Linked DNA regions of Homo sapiens. The protein of the gene in region 3 purifies or fractionates together with the protein of the main gene of each other region. This does not show direct contact. Each region holds a gene or a part of one and is shown on either strand. Other genes may lie near its edges.

Region 1 (3,500 bases), on a different chromosome or scaffold from region 3:
ACTCCGGAGGCTGAGGCAGGAGCATCACTTGAACCCGAGAGGTGGAGGTTGCAGTGAGCCAAGATCGCACCATTACACTCCAGCCTGGGCAACAAGAGCGGAATTCCATCTCAAAAAAAAAAAAATTCTAAACTAGGGCACATCTCTTTACTACACCAGATAAAGGAACTGAAATATATTGTAATAGATAATTATGCATTCTCAAATTAATACTTACGATCACAATTTCAAATATCTAAGAAAGTTACTTTCTACAGTACTAAAAGGTACCAATCCTTTGTCATGCCTAAACAATAAGCTTAAAATAAAAATTCTATGCTTCTTGAAAAAATTAGTCTAAGACTATACAGAGATATTATTTGATAAAATGGTTGCATGAAATATAGCCCTATCTTGTGGTTTTGTGGTTTTTTTGGATTATATTTTTCACTGAGAGGTAACCCTCAAGCAGTACTAGAATCTTTTACTTTGAAATTCCCATGTAAATACTTAGTATTTTTATAGTCCTAACATCCACTTACAGCAGCATATTTCTTTTTTTTTTTTTGGAAACAGAGCCTTGCTCTGTCGCCTAGGCTGGAGTGCAGTAGCGTGATCTTGGCTCACTGCAACCTCCGCCTCCAGGGTTCAAGCGATTCTCCTGCCTCAGCCTCCCAAGTAGCTGGGACTACAGGCACACACCACTAAGCCTAGCTAATTTTTGTATTTTTAGTACAGACAGGGTTTCACCATATTGGCCAGGTTGGTCTCGAACTCCTGACCTTAGGTGATCCACCCACCTCAGCTTCCCAAAGTGCTGGGATTACAGATGTGAGCCACCACACCCCAGCCAAAGTAGTATATTTCACTTTAAGGTGCCACATAGATTGAACTTTTGAAAATTCTTAAGGTAATAATTTCACAAAAGAAAATTTAGTGTCTTTGGTCAGGCACGGTGGCTCACGCCTGTAATCTCAGCACTTTGGGAGGCTGAGGCAGGCAGATCATGAGGCCGGAGATCAAGACCATCCTGGCTAACACGGTGAAACCCCGTCTCTACTAAAAATACAAAAATTAGCCAGGCGTGGTGGCAGGTGCCTGTAGTCCCAGCTACTCGGGAAGCTGAGGCAGGAGAATGGCATGAACCCGGGAGGCGGAGCTTGCAGTGAGCTGAGATCGCACCACTGCACTCCAGCCTGGGTGACAGAGCCAGACTCCATCTCAAAAAAAAAAAGAAAGAAAATTTAGTGTCTTAACCAAAATTATTAAGTGTCAGGCTTAAGAGTCAGAATTTACAATTCTCATCTTAGGCTTTAATCAGATTTCTCTGTATCACTGAGATAGGTTCATGATGCATTAATCTAATTATGAGACCTGAAGCACACTCCTACCTGAATAGAATGGGACCAATATCCTGTGGTCCTTTTGGAAATCCCAAGAGTAGAAACAGCATGATGTGCATAGACTTTTGGCGAAGGCACCAACCACGAGCACCTGTGCAGAAAGTTGCTGGGTGCTGTCATGCTGGTGGCTACATAGAAAGGGATTAGACTCTGTACAAAGATTCCTTTAGAGGCATATTCATATTGCAAGGCTCTGCTGAAGTGGTCTAAATAAGCCTGTTGAGACAGAGGGGAGGAAAAGACTTTTAATTCTGGGTGAACTTGAAAATTCAGGAGAAAAAAAGACTTGCTTATTATCAATTCAGGAAAAAATACAGGATAAGCATATGTGAGTTGCTGACAAAGAGTTCAACAAATCAGACCAAACAACTGTTAATAAATGTTCTGTGGCATTAGGATTTCATCTTCCAGTAAGTAACATCTGACCTTAGAAGCAGAAAATGCAGCCAGCTGAGGAGTGGGTTTGCAGCAGGAGCCAGAAGAGATCGTGACGATGGCACCTTTCTTTCTCTCCACCATTCCCGGTAACACAACATGGACCATCAAACTAGCGGCGGCAATGTTCACATTTATGATGTCCCAGAGCTTGTCCTCGGACAGCTGAGTGAAATACTGCGGGTAGGGATAAAACACACCCACGTTATTTACCAAGATGCCAACGTCTTTGTCCTTCAGGGCTTCTCGAATTGGAAGGTAGATCTCACGACCGCTGCTGAAGTCCGCAACTATAATATCAGTTTCCACTTTGTACGTGTCGGCTATGTCTTTAGCAACAACCTGCAACTTCTCCTCGTTCCGACTAATCAGGATTATATTGAGACCTCGGCTTGCTAACTCTTCAGCGTAGGCTTTTCCAATCCCATCTGTTGCACCTAGGATGCAAGTCAGGAAAAGTGAGCATGTGTATTTCACGGTGTGACCCTTAAAATGGACCCAAAGTACCCCCTGTCAGGTTTAGTCAGAGAAAAATTCACACTAGAAATCAAGTCGGTTCTAGTATCTACAAGTCAAGGACACTGTTGCTGAATGAGGAATGTGAAGGGCGCATGCTATACACTCTCCCAGACATCCTGACACACGGACAGGGAGTTATTTTACATTCACCATATTGGTTAGGAGACACAGTAGGAATTTGTTTTCAAACTACTATCTGGCTTGAATGAGTGGCAGGAGGTGCTTTTCTGGGAAATCTTCATAAATTAAAATGAAATTCAAAATAGGTGAAGCATTTCTGAAAGTGGCAACACTTTCAAGACAATTTTAAAACAGAGAACAAAAAGGAAAAGCACATAGTAGGAAGTGGGTCTGGAGGAGGACTGGGAACAGGAGAGAGCAGAATAGGAAGGATACCAATCATGAGGCCAGTTCTTCCTAAGATGAGAGCAGTAAGAAAATGAAATGTGAACATAATCACGGCAGGAGCCATAAGTTTTATTTTTTTATCAGCATGTTCCCATAAAAACACCACATTAAATTCAATAGCTCCTTGAATAATGCATCCGACTTCACAGAAAAGATTATTTTGATTATAAAGTAGGTTACCGCTGACAACGGCCCATCTTCCATACTGCTTGATCAAGTCTGCTCTGCTCCCCAGGCGGGGGATAAAATGCAGCCTGATCAGGCTGTAAAAGTCACAGATGACAGTGATGCTTTTTCTGGCCGTATACCAGGCTCCAACCAAAGCTAGAGCTTCCATATAGCAATTGCAAGACCTGGCGATTTCCCTGTACAAGAGGTAGAAACTGTCAACAGCAGCCATGGCAACCTGCAGGGAGAGGGAAAGAGAGAGAGCCTCTTTGATTAATAAATTAAAGGAACATACACAGTCTGAGTGAAGACATCCAGCTGAGGGCATCAGATCTTGTCAATTGTACGTTCAAATAACACTAACTTTTCAAATGTACGTGGCTCACAGTTTCAGTCTATCTATCTATCTATCTATCTATCTATCTATCTATCTATCTATCTATCAGACAGAGTCTCACCCTGTCGCCCAGGCTGGAGTGCAGTGGTGCGATTTTGGCTCACTGCAACCTCCACCTCCCGGGTTCAAGCGATTCTCCTGCCTCAGCCTCCCAAGTAGCTGGGACTACAGGCACATGCCACCACGCCCGG
Region 2 (3,500 bases), on a different chromosome or scaffold from region 3:
TCCATTTGTTTTTTCTTTCTTTTTTTAAGACAGGGTCTCGCTCTGTCTGTCGCCCAGGCGGGAGTACAGTGGCGTGATCTTGGCTTATTGTAGCCTCCACCTCTCGGGTTCAAGTGATTTTCGTGCCTCAGCCTCCTGAGAAGCTGGGATTACAGATGTGTGCCACCATGCCCAGCTAATTTTTGTATTTTTTAAGTAGAGAAGGGGTTTTGCCATGTTAACCAGGCTGGTCTCAAACTCCTGGCCTCAAGTGATCTGCCAGACTTGGCCTCCTGAAGTGCTGGGATTACAGGTGTGAGCCACTGTGCCCGGACGGGCCACAAATTCTTTGATACTTTTCTCACTGAGAGGTGGCATCTAAGTCCCCTCCCCTGGAATAACACCTGGCTCTGTGACTATTTTGACCAACAGAATATGGCAAAAGTGACATTGTGCCAGTTTCCCAACATAGACTCTAAGGGACTGGCAGCTCCTACTTCCTGTCTCCTGGAATGCTCATGCTAGGAGAAGACAGCTGTCATGTACGGAGTCCAACCAGCCCGAGATTGCTATGTTGTATGCAAGCACAACCAAGTCACATGAAGAAGCTCCTCAGTGAGAGAGATGCCCGACAGCCCCCAGCAGGTCCAGTTATCCCAGCCCAAGAACCAGAATGTGAGTGAAAAAGGCTTCAGATGCCTCCAGCCCCAGCTGCCATCTAATTGCAACAGTATGATGGAGACCAAACATGGCAGCCCCTAAACCATGTCACAGAACAGTAACCCCAAAACTGGTTTACTATAGCACTTAGAATAAAATCTAAACTAATTTCCCTGCTCACTCAAGTCCTGTGTGATCTGGAACCTGCCTCCCTCTGTCACCTCCCTTCCCATGCTCTCCTTTGCCCTCCAGGGTGCAGCCAAACTGGCATTCTTTTTTTTTAACACGCCAAGCTCCAACCAGCCTTAGGGGACTTGCAGTGGTTGTTCTCTCTACTCTGAATTCTCTTTTCTCATTTTCACTGTCTTTTCATAAGGCAGGCAGTTTAGCATGTGGTTCAGAACATGGGCTCTAGTGCCCCAGTTTTCTTCTTTGTCAAATGAGGATAATGGTAACAACTGCAAAAGGCTGTTCTGAGGATCAAGTGAGCTAACACATGTAAAGCACTTCAAACAATACCTAACATACAATCATCACGCAGTGAATGCAGCTGTTTTTGTCATTCAGATTTTGATTGTTATCAGATATTTCCCTGATCACTCTATCTAAAGTATCAAGTCACTCCTATATTACCCTATTTTAACTTTTTATATAGCACGTCTCACTATTTGATATTTTTCTTCTTTGCTTATTATCTTGTCTCTCTCAACTAAAATCAAACGTCCAGGAGAGAAGGACTTGATCGATCTTGTTCTCTTAATCTCAACCCCCAGAACAGTGCCTGACACATAGCAGGTCCCCAATAAATACTGCTAGGTCGAATGAAAAGTGCACTGTAGTATGTGTTGAGTTAGGAAAGGCTTGTAGAAATTAACTGGGGAGAAAAAGGTTATTTCAGAAGAAAAGAACACTATATAGAAAGGGAAGGACTCGAGAGAGAGCATGATGTGTTCAGGGAGCTGCTCCTTGTTCTGCATGTCAGAGTAAAGTACCTGTGAAGGAATGGGGAGGGATGAGAAACGCAATGTGGCCAGAGCAAGATGAAAAAGTATCTTCCAAGTCATATTAATGATTTGGTTTTTTTCTCCTTGTAGATGGGTTAGGAGTAATAGAGGCTGCTGGGGACTATGTGTACAGATATCATGAAACTTTACCACCGCCATCAAGAGGTAGATAATCTGGTTAGAGAAGAAAAAAGTATTATCAACGAGAGTAGGAAAAGCATCACGGAGTTGGGAATTATGAGAATTCTTTGTATTTAGGCAGTTACAGAAGATGGCAGAGCAAATACAGGGGTAGGGCCTGGAAGCTAGGATGGGCCAGGATTACAGAAAAGTATAGCTGAGGTAATTCTGTGTGAAGGCCTTGGCACTGAATGAAGGGTGTGTACCAGGAAGTAGGGTAACCATGAAGAGTAACAGTTTTCCTCATATGATAAAATAATGGAACCTACTATGCTTTTTCCTTTCTAAAAGAGAATCATAAATATTTTGGGGGTATGGGGGGTGGTGATGACGAAGCCTCAAATATTAAAAGATGTATAACACCATATTCCTTCTAACATGGTAAGTTGAGACTATCCAGCTGGTAATGATATAAAAATTTGAGTCAAATAGATACTTTCATAAAGATTATTCCTGTGTGCCACAACTGCCTGAAAGTATTCAGGCTTAAAGTGCTCTGACATACTTGGTATATTTCTGTCAATTACTTAATCTCTTCTGTATATGCTCTCCCAAGGGGACCAGTTATTCCCATTAATTTATGCCATAAAAGGGCAGATGTTTTCCCCATCCACTGTCCATTTCTTTCTTTCTTTTTTGTTTTCCCTTGAGACGGGTTCTCACTCTGTCACCCAGGCTGGAGTGCAGTCAGTGCACAATCATGGCTCACTGTAGCTTTGACTTCCCAGGCTCAGTCAATCTTTCCACCTCAGCCTCTGGAGAAGCTGGTGCGCATCACCATGCCCAGATAATTTTTTGTAGAGACAGGGTTTCGCCATGGTGCCCAGGCTGGTCTCAAACTCTTGGGCTCAAGTGATTCACCTGCCACGGCTTCACAAAGTACTGGGATTACTGGTGTGAGCCACCATGCCTGGGTTTGTCTATTTCTTTATCATAGTAACTAAAGTCAAATAAGATCATATAAGGTATGTGGGCACATGAAAGAAATATTTTCTTATTGAAGAACAGTTTAAAAAGGAATTCATTTTTTACTTTAGGTACTTTAGAAAGATGAGGCCGGGCACGGTGGCTCACACCTGTAATACCAACACTTTGGAAGGCCGAGGTGGGCGGATCACAAGGTCAGCAGATCGAGACCATCCTGGCTAACATGGTGAAACCCTGTCTCTACTAAAAATACAAAAAATTAGCCGGACGTGGTGGCGGGCACCTGTAGTCCCAGCTACTCGGGAGGCCGAGGCAGGAGAATGGCATGAACCTGGGAGGCGGAGCTTGCAGTGAGCCGACATCGTGCCACTGCACTCCAGCCTGGGTGACAGAGTAAGACTCTGTCTCAAAAAAAAAAAAAAAAAAAAAAAGATGAATTTCTGGATAATAATTTTTAAGAAATGGAACAATATAGCAAATTAGCTAAGAAAGATGGATACCTACTTTTTCTGCAGGGCTCTTAAAGCACACCATAAAACTCTTTCTCCTCCTCCACCAGCATTGCAGTATGGATGAAAAAATGCAATCACCATTTGATTTTTCCCATTTTTGCTAGTTGACACTAATTTTTTCTTTCTCTGTAGCAGCAGTCTGATTCCCCAAAGGACAATGACCAAACACACACATAAAGTTCCACATACAATGAGCCCAGGGAAGAATAATGAATAAAAAAACCTGAAATAAGAGGAC
Region 3 (3,500 bases):
AATATGGGATAAGTAGTCAATATCAGAAATGTGAGACAATAAAAACAAGATATATTCCAAAGCCTAATCCTAAATTTAAATCTACACTTCATTCAACTCTGAACCTGACCTTGAAACATGGAAGAAGTTACTTTACCTAAGCACACTGCACCAGTGTAAAACCAATGCCAATTTTAGCTGCTTTATACTGCTTAATGTGTATATGTACACATGTATTCTTAAAATGGTGATTCTTAAATTGAAGTTCTGAATTCTTTTGAGAATCTAACAGAGGTCATGAAAACTTGCTTCAGAAACACACATATGTAAAGTACTTTTAAGTGTTGATCATGTACTATAAATCACAGCATTGTGGATGCAATGGGATTAGACATGAAGAAAAATTTTATATTTTTAATAAAGACTGGTTACTAACCTTAAGGAATATACTTAGACTCTGAAAGTAAAAGGAAAGTGCAATGACCATATTTGTTCATTCATCTGCCTATTTTCAAATCTAATGATGATTTGGTTGATGCAAATATGTCCCTAATCTAGGCTATAAATGATAAAAACAAAAATGTTTAAGTTCTAACTTTTGTTAGCAGTATACATCTAAGAATTTTCAAGTATTACAAAATACTTGGAAGGAAAGACTTTAATATACCACTTTCAAAATCCTATGTACCCAAACCAGCAATGAAGTGGTGGGATATATAACGTTACCTTGGGCAAAATTTAAGAAAATAAAGACACAATAGCTCTAATTTTTTTTTTTTTTTTTTTTTTGAGACGGAGTCTCGCTCTATTGCCCAGGCTTGCATGCAGTGGTGCTATCTCAGCTCACTGCAATCACTGCCTCCTGGGTTCAAGCGATTCTCCTGCCTCAGCCTCCCAAGTAGCTGGGATGACAGGTGCCCGCCACCATGCCTGGCTAATTATTGTATTTTTAGTAGAGACAGGGTTTTGCCATGTTGGCCAGGCTGGTCTCGAACTCCTGATCTCAGGTGATCCACCTGCCTCGGCCTCCCAAAGTACTGGGATTACAGGCATGATCTAAATTCTTTATACCCTTCAAGGGCAGGAAACCAGTATCTCTGAAAAGCTTGTTTGTTTTAATACAATTGAACATTTCATCTTTCCCCCCACAGTAATCAAAGCAAACATTTTATCATTATTATTCTTGGTATATCAAAGTAAATTCCAGGAATGTAAGAAAGTCTGACTTGGAAATATTACATAGAAAAAGGCTGAATTAACACATTACATTTTTTAGTTTTTCCTTGTAAGTATACATTGACATCTACTTATCTGATAGCAGCACTGCTGGTTTTGAGTGAGTTTTGTTTTGTTTTGTTTCCTTCCAGAGGGAATGCAGTATGGCAGCATTTTCTTTGGAACAAATTAAGAAGATAGTAACAAATAACAGAAGAAATACTTCTACACATATATTTTCCATGGGCAATAAACAGATAAGTATATAATTATGAAAAAATATGCCTCAACTATGCTTTTTAAAATTTCTCAAGGTATACTGGTTTGTTTTTCTTATTCAAATATAATGCACTATCACTACTATCTGTCCCGGGAAAAACAAACCCTGAGGTTTGAGTTACCTCCTTCAGCCAACAGAGTGATATCAAGAGTAAACTTGGATTGAGGTCAACCTGTTTGAGCCAATAGAGAGTTCTGTAGTATATCTGGTTATTTTACTAACGTATACATATTCTAGGTTATAATCAAGATACTCATTAAATATTTTCTATCAGAGTTTTATATCCCAAACAGGTTCTTTGATGATTTATCATGCTACCATAGGAAATTTGAAGAAATAACAAATTGTGTAACAGAAATAGACATGCAATATAAAGGACATAAAAGATACAGCTTGACCCTGGATTTTTCCCTTAGAATAATTCCTTCCATAAATAAGACTCTATTTTTACATACAGATTCATCCTATAACTGGTCTTGGATCATAAAGTTAATGACATAGTTGAAAAAATCCAGACCACACATTTTTGTGGTCTTTTGTCACCCCAGACCACACACAAAAAAAACACTCTCCAAGTGGATGCTCAGGTCAGATTATGATGCTCTTAAATAAATGTACTGAAGCTTAGAATGTAAAGCACACAACTATTTGCAGCAGCAATAGTCTTTCAAAATAACTAAAACAAACTTTTAAATATAAGGCATATAAAACAGACTATTAAGGATAGTTTTCCAAACTATATATAGAAACACAGGAAAATATGTGTGGCCTCATAATAAAGTTAAATAAATATTATTTCTGAGTTCTTATAAACACTATGAGGTTATAGTTTTATTTGGTTCCCATAAATTAAAAACTCTGATTGCTTTTACATAAATTCTTAGCTACTCTCAGACTTTTTTTTTTTTGAGACGGAGTCTCCCTCTGTCACCCAGGCTGGAGTGCAGCAGGGCGATCTCGGCTCACTGCAACCTCTGCCTGCCGGGTTCAAGCAATTCTCCTGCCTCAGCCCTGAGTAGCTGGGACTACAGGCACGCACCACCATGCCAGGCTGATTTTTTGTATTTTTAGTAGAGACAGGGTTTCACCATGCTGGCCAGGCTGGTCTCGAACTCCTGGCCTCAGATGATCCGCCCACCTTGGCCTCCCAAAATGTTGGGATTACAGGCGTGAGCCACTGCGCCCGGCCCTTTCAGATTTTTATTAATGTCTTTTTATAAGACACAGAGATTATCTCTAACTTCATTTCAGAAATGTGCTTTTTCATTGGTTTTAATAAGTACATTTAATTTTCTAGCAATGAACATGACTTAAAATTTAAGGTTCAAGGTAGTTCTAGAAAAAGGTAGACACTGAACTATCTGCTTTTCTACATCCCCATATTTACAAAGCCTAGCATCCACTGTGCTTTCCTCCATACACTCAATCACATTGTCAATAAATAGTAACTGTGGTCCAGGTTACCTATGATAAAGACTCCAAAATTCCTCAAAATTTTACAACACTACAAAGTCATTAATATCTGATATTGATAGGTTATAAGTATTAGTGTTATGTAACTTTTTGCTATTGGAAAAGAAATACAAATCTTTATTTTTGCTATCTAAATTAAAACTAAGCTCCATGATCAAGATAATACCTAAAATGTACATTCCTAAATAAAGGTAAAGCTGTTTAAGGGCTGAACTAGTCCAATATACAATTAAGGGTTATTTATTCCTATTCTTTTGTTTTTGTTTTTTTGAATCCCTATGTTAAACCCGTGGTTTCTCATGAATTAGATCATAATTTAACATTGTAAAATTTCAGAAACTATTGTGCTAATATTTAGATTTCAGGAAGGAATCAGACTAAATCAATTACCTCCATTCATTGTTAGAACAGAAGATATAATAGCTTACTAACTGATATGAGTTATGAATGTCACTATGACACAAAATTTGCTGTGATTTGCTAATCTGGCTACAAGTGCAGTATTTTTCATGAATGTCAACACACAGCATTTCCAACTTGTAACATGAAACTC
Region 4 (3,417 bases), on a different chromosome or scaffold from region 3:
GTCAGTCTGTGGCCACCATCTTCGGATGAGAAAGTGGAGCCGCTGCCCTGGAAGAGCTGTGTCTGAACCAGGCTCCCAGCTGTGCCACGGCCCAGGCAGACGCGTTTTAAAGGCCCGAGCCCCGTGTGTCGGGGCTTCTCAGGCAGGGCTGTTGTGCAGCCGCCACCGTGTCAGTGGGACTGGGTCCCAGGTGTCCCTCGCACCCCTTCGGCACTGATCGTGTAGGAACAGGAGGAGGGGGGCAGGTGGGGGGCAGAGAGCACCCGCAGGGTCCGGGCTGGGCAGCCGAGGGCAGCCTCTTCCTCGCGGAGCCGGTCAGCCAGCAGTCTCACCAGGAGCTGGTTAGCCCAGGTTATGCCAAGGGCTGGGGAAACACGTTCGTCCCAGAACCTGAGAAACAGGAAGCAGGCAAGCTGGCGCTCAGGCTTGGTGGCCCCGCCCACTTCGGCCCAGCTGTGCCCCTGGCACCTGCACAGAGGTGCACACACCACATGGCTGCACTCACCCCAGCGGCCCGTGTGCTGCGCCCTGCTCCTCCATGGCCTCTGTCACCTGGAAGAGCACAGTCCAGGTCAGCTGCAACGGCTGAGGGTCTTCTCGATGGTTAGGCACAGGCTGCTACCCGCAGGAGCCGGAGGCCACCTCACTGCCACCCGCCCCACCTCCAGACCGGCTCTGCTTCCGCATCCTGGCTAAAAATACGAGCTCAGGGGTGCAACCCTGCCTTGGTGCTCACCTGGTTGATGCACAGCACAGGGCTCTGGAAGGCACTGCTCAGCTCACGCAGCGTGGCCCCCAGGGACTGCAGATGCCTGGCCCTGGGGGCGGAGGCCTGGCTGTCAAATTCACAGCGGAATGGGGCTGCCACCGAGTCGATGACCACCAGGCGAGCCATGCCCCGAGACAGCAGTACGGGGACCTTCTTATTCACACACTCCAACAAGGTGTCCTGTGGGGACAGCTGTCATTGTCTATGCTGGTCAGCAAGTCCCCGCCCCAGGTGACCAGACCCCGTTTGGACTGTCACTCGACCGTCTGAAAACCTTCCTACCCACCTGGGGCTCACAGTGCCCATACTCTGTAGTCCCCATACTCTGAGCCCAATTCTGTATTTTTCTCAAAGAGGCCCCAACTATAGAAGCTTCAGGCTCACACAACTGGTTCCCTTGGCCCCATGTCCTTCCTCTGGCCCCCCCAGGCAGTCACCCCTTGGCTGTGCCAACACCGTCCTCTGTAGAGGTGTCCTTTGCGCAGGCTCCTGAGTCCTTGCGGGGGTCTGCTCTCCTTCTGCCATGGTTTCACCCTCTCCCCCTCACAGGTCAGCAGCAACCAGCCCCCTCCTTCAGTGGCCCCGCACCAGGTACTCAGACCACCCAAACCTGGCCACAGTGCCACCAAAGCCAGCCCGTGGTGGCCATGACCTCTTCAGACGCTCAGCAAGGCAGGGGCCTGATGCCCTTCAGGCGTTACTCAGGCGAGTCAGGCCTGGCCTGCCTCTGCCAAGGCGTGGGGCACTCTGGGAGACCACCTGGGGGTCAGGATGGGGCTGTAGGTTGAGACACCCTCAAGGCCAGTGCCTCCCGTGCATCCAGGCCTTAGCCCTGTGCTCTGAGCTGGCCTGGCCTGGCCAAGGGGTGGAAACAGCCCTGTGCCCACCAGCTCCCAGGAGAGCTTCCAGGGGAGGACCCCCCCAGTGAAGGCAGGTGTCCTCGGCCTCCCTCTGGGTGCTGCCGTGGCCTGTGGGTGCCAGAGCCATTGGCATGGCTGGCCTGGCCTCTGACCGCACAGCTTGGTGAGCCATGGTGATGGGGGAGGGTGACACAGCTGCTCCTGGCACCAAGCAGTGTAGTTCAGGCCCCACGGGCCTTGCCAGCAGCTCTGGCCAGATGGAGGCTGCTAAGGGGCCCCTAGGCTGTCCCTCAAGTCCAAGGTCTGCAGCCACACGCTGGTGTCACGCCCGGAGCTCTGAAGACGCCTGAGGGCCGCCTGCACGCCCTGAGTGAAACTCGTCTGTGCTTCATCTCCAGGGCGTCTCTGGCCGAGCCTCTTTTTGTGGAAAACGACAGCAGCAGCAGTGGCCTGGAAGACGCCACCGCTAACGTGAGTCCCACGGCCTGCAGCCCCAGGAAGCAGGCAGCTGGGCCAGGGAGGGACTTTGCACATGCAGGGACTGGGGGGAGCTGGGGATGGGCAAGTGGTGACTGCTGCTAGCTGCCAGGCTGGGCCTCCAAGAGGGGCTTGGCTCAGGGTCCCCATCCTCATGCAAGCCCAAGGGCCACAGAGTGGGGGGGTGGGAATGGCACCAGGCTCTGCTTATGCAAGAGAAGGCTCTGTGTCCACACCCCTGGCTTCCCCCGTGCCAGACGCAGGCCTTTGGTGCTCCAGGGAGCAGAGACCAAAGACGCACCAGTCCCCCATGACCCCTCGGCCCCAGGGAGGCTCACAACCAGCAACACCCTCTTCTCTAGGCAGACTTGGGGTGGGGGTTCCCCAGAGAGCTGTTTCCAGAACAGAACTTAGTAACACTGTCAGGTTTTGGCGGCCCAGCCCTGACCTTCTATCTTCTCTTGCAGTGACCCCGACCTGGCCCCGCTCCAGGATGGGACTGCCGAGTGTGGCCCGGAGCTGGCCCGGGACAGCCAGGGCGGCAGGGAGGGCCCCTGGCCGGGAGCCGCAGCGCTCACTCATTTCTCCTGCGTCTGTGTGCATAGGACATGATACTAATAACCACACGGCTGGCGTGACCTTGGGGCTGGGGCTGGGCCTAAGCTGGTGCCCTGGTGCGGCGTGGTCTCTCCCAGGAGACCTGGGGCATGAGCTGGGCCCACGGCTCCCTTCCCATGTGTAACTTCCTCACGTTGTGTGCGATAACGTATTTTATTGTACATTTTTTTAAATTAAAAGTTTATATGCCTTATGCTTTACTTGAAAGTTTTTATAAGACCTCTTAGAAGTGGGGGAAGGCTGGCGGGCGCGGTGGCTCACGCCTGTAATCCCAGCACTTTGGGAGGCCGAGGTGGGCGGATCACCAGGTCAGGAGATCGAGACCATCCTGGCTAACATGGTGAAACCCCGTCTCTATTAAAGATACAAAGAATTAGCTGGGCGTGTTGGTGGGCGCCTGTAGTCCCACCTACTCTGGAGGCTAAGGCAAGAGAATGGCGTGAACCCGGGAGGTGGAGCTTGCAGTGAGCTGAGATTGCACCACTGTACTCCAGCCTGGGCGACAGAGCGAGACTGTCTTAAAAAAAAAAAAGAGAAGTGGGGGAAGGCCCACCCAGGAGCTGCTCTGCCAGGCCACAGCCATGTCTAGGGTGGGCTGGACATGGCAGCCGCTCCCCCTGCACAGGGTGGAATTTCCTTACTTGCCTTTGGTCAGGGGTTTACTCCCAAACGTCCCATCTTTTCTTCTGCGTC
Region 5 (3,500 bases), on a different chromosome or scaffold from region 3:
TGTGCTTGACACTGTGGTATGTGCTGAGGATATAGTGGTGATCAAGAGAGAGACAGTCTCTTTTATGAAGAACAAGGTGGATGGTGGTACCAGTTATTGAGAGGGGCATTTACAAATGCTCCTTCCGCACTGTTCACCTGGGAAATATTTAGCCATCAACCAGAGCTTGTGTTTACCTCTTCTGTGTCCCATATTCTGGTTCTCCCCTTTACCTAGATTGAACAGGTCATCCTTTCCTTTCAGTCTTCACTGAACCCTCAATAATCGGATTTTCAAGATGGTCTCTAAAACACTTCATTAAACTCGTATTTGGTGCCTCCCTTACAAGACTGTGAACTTCTTATCTGGTAGATAAGGTGTCCTATACATTTCTGTACTCCCAGTTTCTAGTATGAACTCAAGCCACTGTAGAATGAAAAAATAAATTACAGAATGAAGTCACTTTTTGAACCCTATCGATGATGGCTCCTCAGTATTCACAGTATAAGGCTCAAATCTCCCCATTCTGGCCCTTACCCGATGTCGAATCCAGTGGTTTTTTTTTTTGAGATGGAGTCTCTCTCTGTTGCCCAGGCTGGAGTGCAGTGGCACGATCTCAGCTCACTGCAAGCTCCGCCTCCCGGGTTCACGCCATTCTGCCTCAGCCTGCCGAGCGGCTGGGACTACAGGCGCCCGCCACCATGCCCGGCTAATTTTTTGTATTTATAGTAGAGACGAGGTTTCACCGTGTTAGCCAGGATGGTCTGGATCTCCTGACCTCGTGATCCACCTGCCTAGGCCTCCCAAAGTGCTGGGATTACAGGCGTGAGCCAACGCGCCCGGCCGAATCCAGTGGTTTTAAACTCAGGCTGCACATTAAAATAACCTGGGGGCACTTCAAAATAAATACTGATATCCAGGTTCCACCTGTAGAGATTTCTGATTAATTTGGTCTGTGAGTGCTGCTCAGCTGTCCAAATTCTTTTTAAAAATACTCCAAGTGATTCCTATGTGCAGCTAGGGTTGAGTGTTCCTGCTCATTAATTGGCCTTCCCTATACCATGCTTGAGAAGTTTTTACTATCATTAAGTAAGTAAATTTACATGGCTACTCACTCAGGAACATAACACAAAGAAGAACCCAAGTAAGCCTTAGGGGAACTATCTCTCCCCCATCTTACTTAGTAGAGCAGGCCTCTCCCTACTGCTAGTGAAATAGGCCTTTCTTATACCTCCCTTTTAACTGCTCTGGAGGATCCACTCATTCAACAGATAGTGACTGAGAGCTCACAGTGTACCAGGCACTGTTTTACAGGCTGTGAATACAGCATGAACAAGGCAGGCAGGGACTGCACTGAGAGCCTACGTGTCCTTATGGAAAGACAGACAACAAATAAACAAGGTAAATTCATTTAGTGATACCACCAGTAGTATGTTGGTCAATGTTTAACCATTTAACGCTTGATATGGGAGAGCTCTGAGTTATAGCATTTGTCAATTTTTGTGGGATATACGCTCCCACCAGGGCAGATTTAAAGCTTCCAATCTGACCCCAGCAAACGCAAAGCTGGGGAGAAATGAGCAGTAGCACACAGTTATACAGGATACAGGATCTCCACCTTCCAGCACGATAGACAAATAATCTCAAGAGCACAGGTAATAGTACAATAATGAGAAAATGTTAAGTTATCAGTATTTATTACCTTTTTTAAAAACAGGATTTAATCGTAAATTTACATAATTTAATATTTAATTTTTTTTTTTGAGACAGAGTTTCACTCTTGTTGCCCAGGCTGGAGTGCAATGGCGCAATCTCGGCTCACTGCAACTTCCACCTCCCGGGTTCAAGCGATTCTCCTGCCTCAGCCTCCCGAGTAGCTGGGATTACAGGCATGTGCCACCATGCCCAGCTAATTTTGTGTTTTTAGTAGAGACGGGGTTTCTCGATGTTGGTCAGGCTGGTCGCGAGCTCCCGACCTCAGGTGATCCGCCTGCTTTGGCCTCCCAAAGTGCTGGGATTACAGGCGTAAGCCACAGCGCCCGGCTATTTAATTTTTAATAATGGCTGTGTTTTAAGAATGGGCTCACAAACTTCATGAAAATTTAACAATCAGCTCTTGCAAGCCAATAGAAGACTGCTGTAGCACACCACTGGAAAGAGAATATAAGGAAAATAAAGCTGCGGTCAGGGCATGGTGGCTCACTCTGTAATCCCAGTGATCTGGGAGGCCAAGGCAAGAGGATCAATCGTTTGAGACCAGAAGTTTGAGACCAGGTTGGCAACATAGTGAGGCCCTGTCTCTACACAAAATAAAAAAAAAAACCAGTCAGGCGTGGTGGTATGCGCCTACAGTCCTAGCTACTGGGAGGCTGAGGAGGGAGGATCACTTGAGCTCAAGAGTTGGAGGTCACAGTGAGCTATGACTATGCCACTGCACTCCACTCTAGGTGACAGAGCAAGATCCTGGCTCTAAAAATAATTAATTAAAAAGCCAAAAATTAACAACAACAAAAAAAGAAAATTAGGCAACTAATGAGGAAAATGAGGAATAGTGATTGGATAGCTGTTTTAGATTCAATGGTTGTGGAAGGCCTCTCTGAGGAAGTGATATTTGAGTTGGGACCTCAATAATACAAAGAGCCAGCAATAAAACTTCTGAGAAAACATAGCATGCCACACAGAAGGGACTATGAGCATTCGAGGGAAGAGCATTTTACTGTCTGAGAAACAGAAGGCCAGGGTGGCTAAAGCCCAGTGAACAAGAAGATTAGTAAAGTCAGAGCAATAGCAGTTAAGAGATCATGTACAGTCTTGTGGGACACTGTAGTAAGGCATCTGCATCTTTCACTTGGACTTTAACAGGAAGTCATCATCTGGATTATGGCACACCAGTGGTTACCCATCCTCAGTCTTCTTTTCATTCTAGGGTCTCACTGAATGATTTCAGGCTCACCGAATGCTATAGATACAACCTACATGCTGAAAAATCTATACATTTAGGCCAGACCCCCTCTCTTGCTCTGGCACCATATTTCTAACCCTACTTGGATCTCTTCCAAACACTATGGAATGTATCTGGCTCATAACATGATAATCCACAAGTTAAAAATCATTATATTTCTCTCTTACATCACAAACTGAACACACCCCAAACTGAATTCTATTACCCTGACCAAACCTGCTCCTCTCCCCATATTTCTTATCAATGAAAGGCATCATCATCTGCCCAGTTGCCAAATCATAGAAACCCAACAGTGAACTTCAGACTATGCTATTTTCCTTAGCCACCACATTCAAATGGTTCCAAAGGATGATGATTTACTGTCCTAAATATCACATAAATTCATCAATTTCCCTTCTTCCTGGGCTCACTGTTACTGCTTCATTACTTCTCTGGATTACTGCAATAGCATTCTAACTGATCTCCACTTTTATGCATCAGATTCCCTACCCAACCTGATTCTCTTCCTACAGTCTCTACTTAGGCAAAACAGGTTACCTATACAGATAATCACACCAGA
Region 6 (3,500 bases), on a different chromosome or scaffold from region 3:
CTTATGCCACTTAACAAAACGATCTCCGGTTCCATCACTGTTGTTGCAAATGACAGGATCTCATTCTTATTTATGGCTGAATAGTACTCCATTTTGTATATGTACTGTTTTCTTTTTCCATTCATCAGCTGATGGAACCTTAGGCTGCTTCCAAATCCCAGCTATTGTGAATAGTGCTGCAATAAACATGGGGGTGCAGATATGTCTTCGATATACTTAATTCCTTTCTTTTGGGTATATATCTAGCAGTGGGATTGCAGGATCATATGCTAGCTCTATTTTCAGTTTTTTGAGGAACCGCCAATCTGTTCTCCATAGTGATTGTACTAATTCACACCAACAGTATATGAAGGTTCCCTTTTCTCTACATCCTCACCAGCATTTGTTACTGCCTGTCTTTTGGAGAAAAACCATTTGAACTGGAGTGAGATGATATCTCATTGTAGGTTTGATTTGCATTTTTCTGATGATCAATGATGTTGAGCACCTTTTCATATACATGTTTGCCATTTGTATGTCTTCTCTGGAGAAACATCTATTCAGATATTTTGCCCAATTTTTAATTAGATTATTAAATTTTTTTCCTACAGGGTTGTTTGAGCCCCTTATATAATCTGGTTATTAATCCCTTGTCAGATAGACAGTTTACAAATATTTTCTCCCATTCTCTGGGCTCTCTCTTCACTTTGCTGATTGTTTCCTTCACTGTGCAGAAGCTTTTCAACTGGATGTGATCCCATTTGTCCATTTTCACTTTGATTGCCTATGCCTGTGGTGTATCACGCAAGAAATCTTTGCCAAGTCCAATGTCCTGGAGAGTTTCCCCCAATGTTTTCTTTTGGTAGTGTCATAATTTGTGGTCTTAGATTTAAGTCTTTAATCCACTTTGTTTTTTTATATGGCAAGAGAGAGAGGTCTAGATGCATTCTTCTGCATAAGGTTATCCAGTTTTCCCAGCTTCATTTATTAAAGAGATTGTCCTTTCCCCAGTGTATGTTCTTGGAACCATTGTCAAATATGAGTTCATTGTAGATGTATGGATTTATTCCTGGGTTCTCTATTCTGTTGCATTGGTCTACGTGTCTGTTTTTATGCCAGAACCATGCTGTTTTGGTTACTATAACTCTGTAGTATAACTTGAAGTCACATCATGTAATTCCTCCAGTTTTATTCTTTCTGCTCAAGATAGCTTTGGCTATTCTGGGTCTTTTGTGGTTCCATATAAATTTTAGGATTTTTTTCCTATTTCTGTGAAGAATGTCATTGGTATTTTGATTGGGATTGCATTGAATCTGTAGATTGCTTTGGGTAGTATGGAAAGTTTAACAATATTGGTTCTTCCAATCCATGAATATGGCTTATCTTTCCATTTCTTGGTGTCCTCTTCAGTTTCTTGCATCAGTGTTTTATTGTTTTCATCCTAGAGAGCTTTCACTTGTTTGGTTAATCCCTAGGTATTTTATTTGTAGCAATTATAAATGGAATTACTTTCTTGATTTCTTTTTCAGATTGTTCACTGTTGGCATATAGAAATGCTAATGATTTTTGTATGTTGAATTTGTATTCTGCAACTTTACTAAATGTATTGATTAGTTCTAATCAATACATTTTTTGTTTTGTTTTTTGGTGGAGTCTTTAGGTTTTTCCAAATAGGAGGTCATATCATCTGCAAACAAGTGTAATTTGACTTCTTCCTTTCCCATTTGGATAGGCTTTATGTCGTTCTCTTGTCTGATTGCTCTAGCTAGGATTTCCAGTACTATGTTGCTATTCAACATAGTGGGCATCCTTGTTATTTCAGATCTTAGAGGAAAGGCTTTCAGTTTTTCCCCATTCAGTATGATTATTTGCTGTGGGCCTGTTGCATATGGCTTTTATTATATTGAGGTATGTTCCCTCTATACTCAGTTTTTTGAGGATTTTTATCATGAAGTGATGTTGAATTTTATCAAATGCTTTTTCAGCATCAACTGAAATGATCATATGGTTTTTGCCCTTCATTTAGTTGATATGATGTATCACACTGATTGGTTTGTGAACGTTGAACCATTCTTGTATCCTTGGGATAAATTCCACTTGGTCATGATGAATGATTTTTTTTTTTTTTTAAATGTACTGCTGACTTTGGTTTGTTAGCATTTTGTTGAGAATTTTTGCATCAGTGTTCATCAGGGATACTAGCCTATAGTTTTCTTTTACTGATGTGTCTGTCTGGTTTTTGGTATCAGGGTAATTCTGGCCTCATAAAATGAGTTTGGAAGTATTCCCTCCTCCCCTATTTTTCAGAATAGTTTGAGTAGGGTTGGTATTACTTCTTCTTTAAATGGTAGAACTTAGCAGAGAAGCCATTGCATCCTTGGCTTTTCTTTGCTAGGAGACTTATTATGGCTTTGATCTAATTACTTGTTATTGGTCTGTTCAGATTTTGGATTTCTTCATGATTCTATCTTAGTAGGTTGTATGTGTCTAGAAACTTATCCATTTCTTCTAGGTTTTCCAATTTATTGGTATATAGTTGTTCACAGTAGCCACTAATGATCCTTTGAATTTATGCAGTATGAGTTGTAATATCTCCTTTTTCATCTCTGATTTTATTTATTTGGGTCTTCTCTCTTTTTTTTCTTAGTCTGGCTAAAGGTTTGTCAATTTTATCTTTTCAAAATACCAAAAAAAAACTTTTCATTTCATTGATCTTTTGTATTGTTTACTCTGTTTCAATTTCATGTATTTCTGCTCTAATTTTTATTACTTCTTTTCTTCCACTAACTTTGGGTTTGGTTTGCTGTTGCTTTTCTAGTTCTAAGACGCATCATTAGGTGGTTTATTTGAACTTTTTCTTCTTTTTTGATGTAGGCATTTATAGCCATAAACTTCTCTTAGTACTGCTTTGCTGTATTTCATAGGTTTTGGTATGTTGTGTTTCTATTATCATTTGTTTCAAGAAATTTTTCAATTTCTTTCTTAACCTCTTCATTGACCAACTGGTCATTCAGAGGCATATTGTTCAGTTTCCATGTGTTTGTATAGTTTCCAAAATTCCTGTTATTAATTTCTAGTTTTATTCCATTGTAGTCAGAGAAGATACTTGATATTATTTCAGTTTTTTGGAATGTTTTAAGATTTGTTTTGCAACCTAGCATATGGTCTATCCTTGAGAATGATCCATGTGCTGAGCAGAAGAATGTGTATTCTGCAACTATGGAATGAAATGTTCTGTAAGTATCTATTAGGTCCATTTCGTCTATGGTGCAGATTAAGTCTGATGTTTCTTTGTTGATTTTCTGTCTGGATGATCTGTCCAATGCTGAAAGTGGGGTGTTGAGGTCTCCAGCTATCATTGTATTGGGGTCTATCTCCATCTTTCACTCTGATAATATTTGCTTTATATATCTGAGTGCACTAGTGTTGGATGCATATATAACTGTTATATCCTTATGCTGAATTGACCCCTTTATCATTATACAACAAACTTGTCTCTTTTTATATTTTTTTCTTGAAAT
Region 7 (3,500 bases), on a different chromosome or scaffold from region 3:
GTATATTTTAAGAAAATCAAGTGAAATAAACACACATTAGGCCATATGTTGGATATGTGGAATTGATTAATGTTTTCATTTCCAAGAAAATGCCATTATAATTTCCTATGATTTTTAGCATTAGTGATATTTTTTATCATAGAGATTTCTTTCTTTATATCTTACAACACATACATTTATACATTCTTAATCTGGCTTTAATAAATAGTTGAGAACAGTTTGTATGAATCCCAAATACAGAGCATTTTAACAGTGTTATATGTTTAAATATAGAAAAGCCTAATACAGTGATGTTTTAAATTTTATGTGTTGTCAACACAGTATTTCTTCTTAAATAACTTATGAAAAGTGTCTGTGTGTACTTTGGTAAGAAATGTATTTTCAATGTTTCATCAAGAAAGCAGTGATTTATCTTTTAACAGCATATATTCTAAAAAATGAACTATAATGGAAGCTATCTTTCCTTAAAATGGCCAGTCGTGTGAGCTATAATATAGTTCATTGATAGTAAAATCAATAGAGCATTGATTCTAAGCTTAATCCTTAGAGACTGTTGTTTAGAGTGACAGACATAGGCTAGTAAATATCTAGTTCTGTTTAATGTGTTCAGTGCATGAGATTTTGCTATCTTGAATTTGTACACCAAATACAATTTGTACGTAGGGTAGAAAATAGTAGCTATTAACAGACACATAGCACTTTCAGTTATGATGGTGATAAAATATTTGATAAGAGATTCTTAGCTATGAGTTCAGCTGTTTTCTCTTCTGCTATAGTTTAGTTATACCCAAAGCAAATTTAATACTTAAGAGTGCTATTAGGGAATTGTCTCCATTTTCTTAGATGTTCTTTATCAATAACTATACTTTTTACCTGAAGTTATTTCATGGGAGAGGTTTGCTGAAAATGATGATTTCTATATTCACCTTTTTTCTCCCTCAACAAATCTGAAGTAGAATGTGGATTGAGAATAGATTCAGGACTTAAGGTTGATTGGACTTCATTTGAATGTTGTAATCTTATGTTAGAGCACTTGAAACCTTTTTACCTATACATTTTCTCATTTAAAATGAATCAGTATTTATAAGATAGATTTAAACATAAATTTTTGATAACATGAATGATAGTTTTTATGAAGTCATATTATTATATCTTGATGTTAATATTCAAGAATTTCGATAAACATTGAAAAAGAATAGCACCAAATTTTTCTGGTGTAGCTACTGCCAAACCATACATTACTTTGTAGACTCTTGTATATTACACAATTTGCTTTTTAAGAGTTTAGTACTAATTAATGTCCTTTGCTTTCAACATTGGTTATTCCAATTTGATGATATTGTTATTAATAACCTAAGTTGATCAGAAGGTCAGGTTTTCTAGATTTGCTAATAAAATATATTTTACATTTATATCTGATGTTTTTCTACTGAAAAAAGAAGTTGCCTGTAATAAATCCTCTGCTTTATTTTTTTAGCATATCTCCAAGGTATCAATTTAATAACTATCAAAGTAGCTACTGCAGTTGTTGCATTTAAATTGATTTACATGTCAAGACTGGCAGTTTAGCAGCTGCGCTATTATTCCTAGATCGGTCAATTTACTTGAGAAAAACCTACTACCGAGTTCTACTGACCTGCCTGACAATATAGGCCCTATTTCTATTCCTGTAATTAGGCCTGCGACTAACTCAGAATATTTTTAATTAAAATATTTTGGTCAATGTGTTGCACCAAATTAGGCCTTTCAGTGAAGATTTAATTCTGGAAATAGTGTGATTAGAATATTTAATGAGTTGTGTTCAATTAACAGGTTGTGTGTGTTGAACACACAGTGTTTGTATGTGACCATTTTGAGTTTTACAGTCATAAATGTTACTCCTTATTTTTAACCTCAAAGATATTTGTTCAATGATTGTCTGACAAGTAAATTTAAATTGAGTTGAAAATTTATTTTAAAGTAACTTTTTTATCCTGATAGTACCAAGAAAGCTGATTTAAAATGCATCAGCTTTTTAAAGGACTAGGAAAGCTTTTACTTGTTAATGTTCTTCTCTTCCAGCAAAAGCCAAAAATGAGGAAATTGCCACTTAATTGTTTACAAATAAACAGTTTTATTGAGAAATCCAACATAAACACTGGTTGTTACCACATCTCTTTTTAATTTGGGAGTTTTTTATTTTCTAAAGGAATATAGCAATACAAAATTAAAAGACACTCAATTTTATAGGCTTTTACCTCATTAAAAAGCTTTGATAAAATCATGTGTATAAATACTTCAGCCTTGAGCCACCGTAGTTTAGGGGTAGACATAAAAGCACTGACTAGAAAATTTATTCTGAATTTGATTCAATTAATATGTAATTCACGGTAACAAACAGCTCTTATCTTGATCTTTCTCCTATTGAGATCCTCCTTTTTGTTGCTGACTTCAATGGTAGAGTCTTTACTATAGACTAGTAGACAGGTAGACTACACGTAGCTCCTTTAGTTTAGATGTCACTCCAGGAGTCACATCTTTGGGTGCTGTAAAAACATGAGATCTGGTATCCACAGTATATTACTGGACACTTTTTTGAAGGGTGTCAGTGACTAGAGCTATCTACAGTGCTTTGAATTTACTCGATATTATAATGCTGGGAACGTACATAAACATTATCTATTTTGGATAATTTGTTTTCTTTTTCCTTTTTGTAATATAGGCACAAATAGTTTTTTTTGTTTTTATTTTAAACTCCCCGTGAAAAACTGTTATATTTGTACTGTAGGTATGATGATATTCTGATCAATGGACTTCCAGATTGGCGACAGCCTGTATTCTACTACAGGCGGGTGAGAAAAATGAGCAATGCTGAGCTGGCATTACTCTTGTTCATTATTCTCACAGTGGGTCATTATGCTGTGGTTTGGTCAATCTACCTGGAAAAACAACTGGTAAGTGTTAGTAATAAATCAAATGAACTAGCCTCCTTAATTTTATATGGAATTTTGGACATTTATTTTTCAACTGATGAAAATTTCTGTTTCTCTCTGTATACTTCTCATTCTAATAGTTTTATACTCAATGTTTGACATATTTCTAAGTCAAGAAGAACCCATGAAATAAGAAAATATTCTTCTTTTAAAAAATGTGGCACTTAAGTTTGTTATAAAACTTTGTGAAAGCCCAAATATCTAGCTGGGAATTAGAAGGTAGAGCCATGTTTTCATTATCACCTTCCAAATAGAAATATTTTTTATTTAAGACTGATTTTAGATTTTTTTGTGTCACAGGCCTTTATATAATGAATGTTTACTTTTAAAATGTTTTAGGTAAATAAATAAAATTGGAAATGAATATAATATTCTAACTTCAATTGGTTAAAAAAATTATTACACTTTTCTTGGTTTAATATGCTACTCTATAGTTTATTCTTTGGGTTTTTATTTATATGTTAAAGATAATCAAACATATTTATCAGTATTCATGAATTAGCATCTGTTTACTCATTCCTTTTGAAG

Evidence for each region.
Region 1: the proteins of MINDY2 (region 3) and HSDL1 purify together in Homo sapiens (affinity purification with mass spectrometry, with the first as the bait; one large-scale study listed by BioGRID). This does not show direct contact.
Region 2: the proteins of MINDY2 (region 3) and ALG11 purify together in Homo sapiens (affinity purification with mass spectrometry; 2 studies listed by BioGRID and IntAct, with this or other methods). This does not show direct contact.
Region 4: the proteins of MINDY2 (region 3) and KLC1 purify together in Homo sapiens (affinity purification with western blotting, with the first as the bait; one study listed by BioGRID). This does not show direct contact.
Region 5: the proteins of MINDY2 (region 3) and GNPAT purify together in Homo sapiens (affinity purification with mass spectrometry; 3 studies listed by BioGRID and IntAct, with this or other methods). This does not show direct contact.
Region 6: the proteins of MINDY2 (region 3) and XXYLT1 purify together in Homo sapiens (affinity purification with mass spectrometry; 2 studies listed by BioGRID and IntAct, with this or other methods). This does not show direct contact.
Region 7: the proteins of MINDY2 (region 3) and DNAJC1 purify together in Homo sapiens (affinity purification with mass spectrometry; 3 studies listed by BioGRID and IntAct, with this or other methods). This does not show direct contact.

Annotation. Positions count from the first base shown.
Region 1 is NC_000016.10:84,128,178-84,131,677, forward strand, and holds part of HSDL1 (inactive hydroxysteroid dehydrogenase-like protein 1), read right to left. Parts: intron 3,151-3,500; 5' UTR 3,145-3,150; coding exon 2,925-3,144; intron 2,255-2,924; coding exon 1,809-2,254; intron 1,599-1,808; coding exon 1,371-1,598; intron 1-1,370.
Region 2 is NC_000013.11:52,018,898-52,022,397, reverse strand, and holds part of ALG11 (GDP-Man:Man(3)GlcNAc(2)-PP-Dol alpha-1,2-mannosyltransferase), read right to left. Parts: intron 3,486-3,500; coding exon 3,255-3,485; intron 1-3,254. UniProt on the Homo sapiens protein: GDP-Man:Man(3)GlcNAc(2)-PP-Dol alpha-1,2-mannosyltransferase that operates in the biosynthetic pathway of dolichol-linked oligosaccharides, the glycan precursors employed in protein asparagine (N)-glycosylation.
Region 3 is NC_000015.10:58,854,802-58,858,301, reverse strand, and holds part of MINDY2 (ubiquitin carboxyl-terminal hydrolase MINDY-2), read right to left. Parts: 3' UTR 1-3,500. UniProt on the Homo sapiens protein: Hydrolase that can remove 'Lys-48'-linked conjugated ubiquitin from proteins. Binds to polyubiquitin chains of different linkage types, including 'Lys-6', 'Lys-11', 'Lys-29', 'Lys-33', 'Lys-48' and 'Lys-63'.
Region 4 is NC_000014.9:103,698,628-103,702,044, forward strand, and holds the end of KLC1 (kinesin light chain 1), read left to right. Parts: exon of another isoform or gene 1-170; coding exon of another isoform or gene 171-390; intron 391-505; coding exon of another isoform or gene 506-552; intron 553-736; coding exon of another isoform or gene 737-949; intron 950-2,027; coding exon 2,028-2,099; coding exon of another isoform or gene 2,100-2,100; intron 2,101-2,573; coding exon of another isoform or gene 2,574-2,576; 3' UTR 2,577-2,917; downstream 2,918-3,417. Other genes in the region: DNA repair protein XRCC3, read right to left, coding at 171-390, 506-552, 737-949. UniProt on the Homo sapiens protein: Kinesin is a microtubule-associated force-producing protein that may play a role in organelle transport. The light chain may function in coupling of cargo to the heavy chain or in the modulation of its ATPase activity.
Region 5 is NC_000001.11:231,244,212-231,247,711, reverse strand, and holds part of GNPAT (dihydroxyacetone phosphate acyltransferase), read right to left. Parts: intron 1-3,500. UniProt on the Homo sapiens protein: Dihydroxyacetonephosphate acyltransferase catalyzing the first step in the biosynthesis of plasmalogens, a subset of phospholipids that differ from other glycerolipids by having an alkyl chain attached through a vinyl ether linkage at the sn-1 position of the glycerol backbone, and which unique physical properties have an impact on various aspects of cell signaling and membrane biology.
Region 6 is NC_000003.12:195,229,660-195,233,159, forward strand, and holds part of XXYLT1 (xyloside xylosyltransferase 1), read right to left. Parts: intron 1-3,500. UniProt on the Homo sapiens protein: Alpha-1,3-xylosyltransferase, which elongates the O-linked xylose-glucose disaccharide attached to EGF-like repeats in the extracellular domain of target proteins by catalyzing the addition of the second xylose.
Region 7 is NC_000010.11:21,920,231-21,923,730, reverse strand, and holds part of DNAJC1 (dnaJ homolog subfamily C member 1 precursor), read left to right. Parts: intron 1-2,767; coding exon 2,768-2,933; intron 2,934-3,500. UniProt on the Homo sapiens protein: May modulate protein synthesis.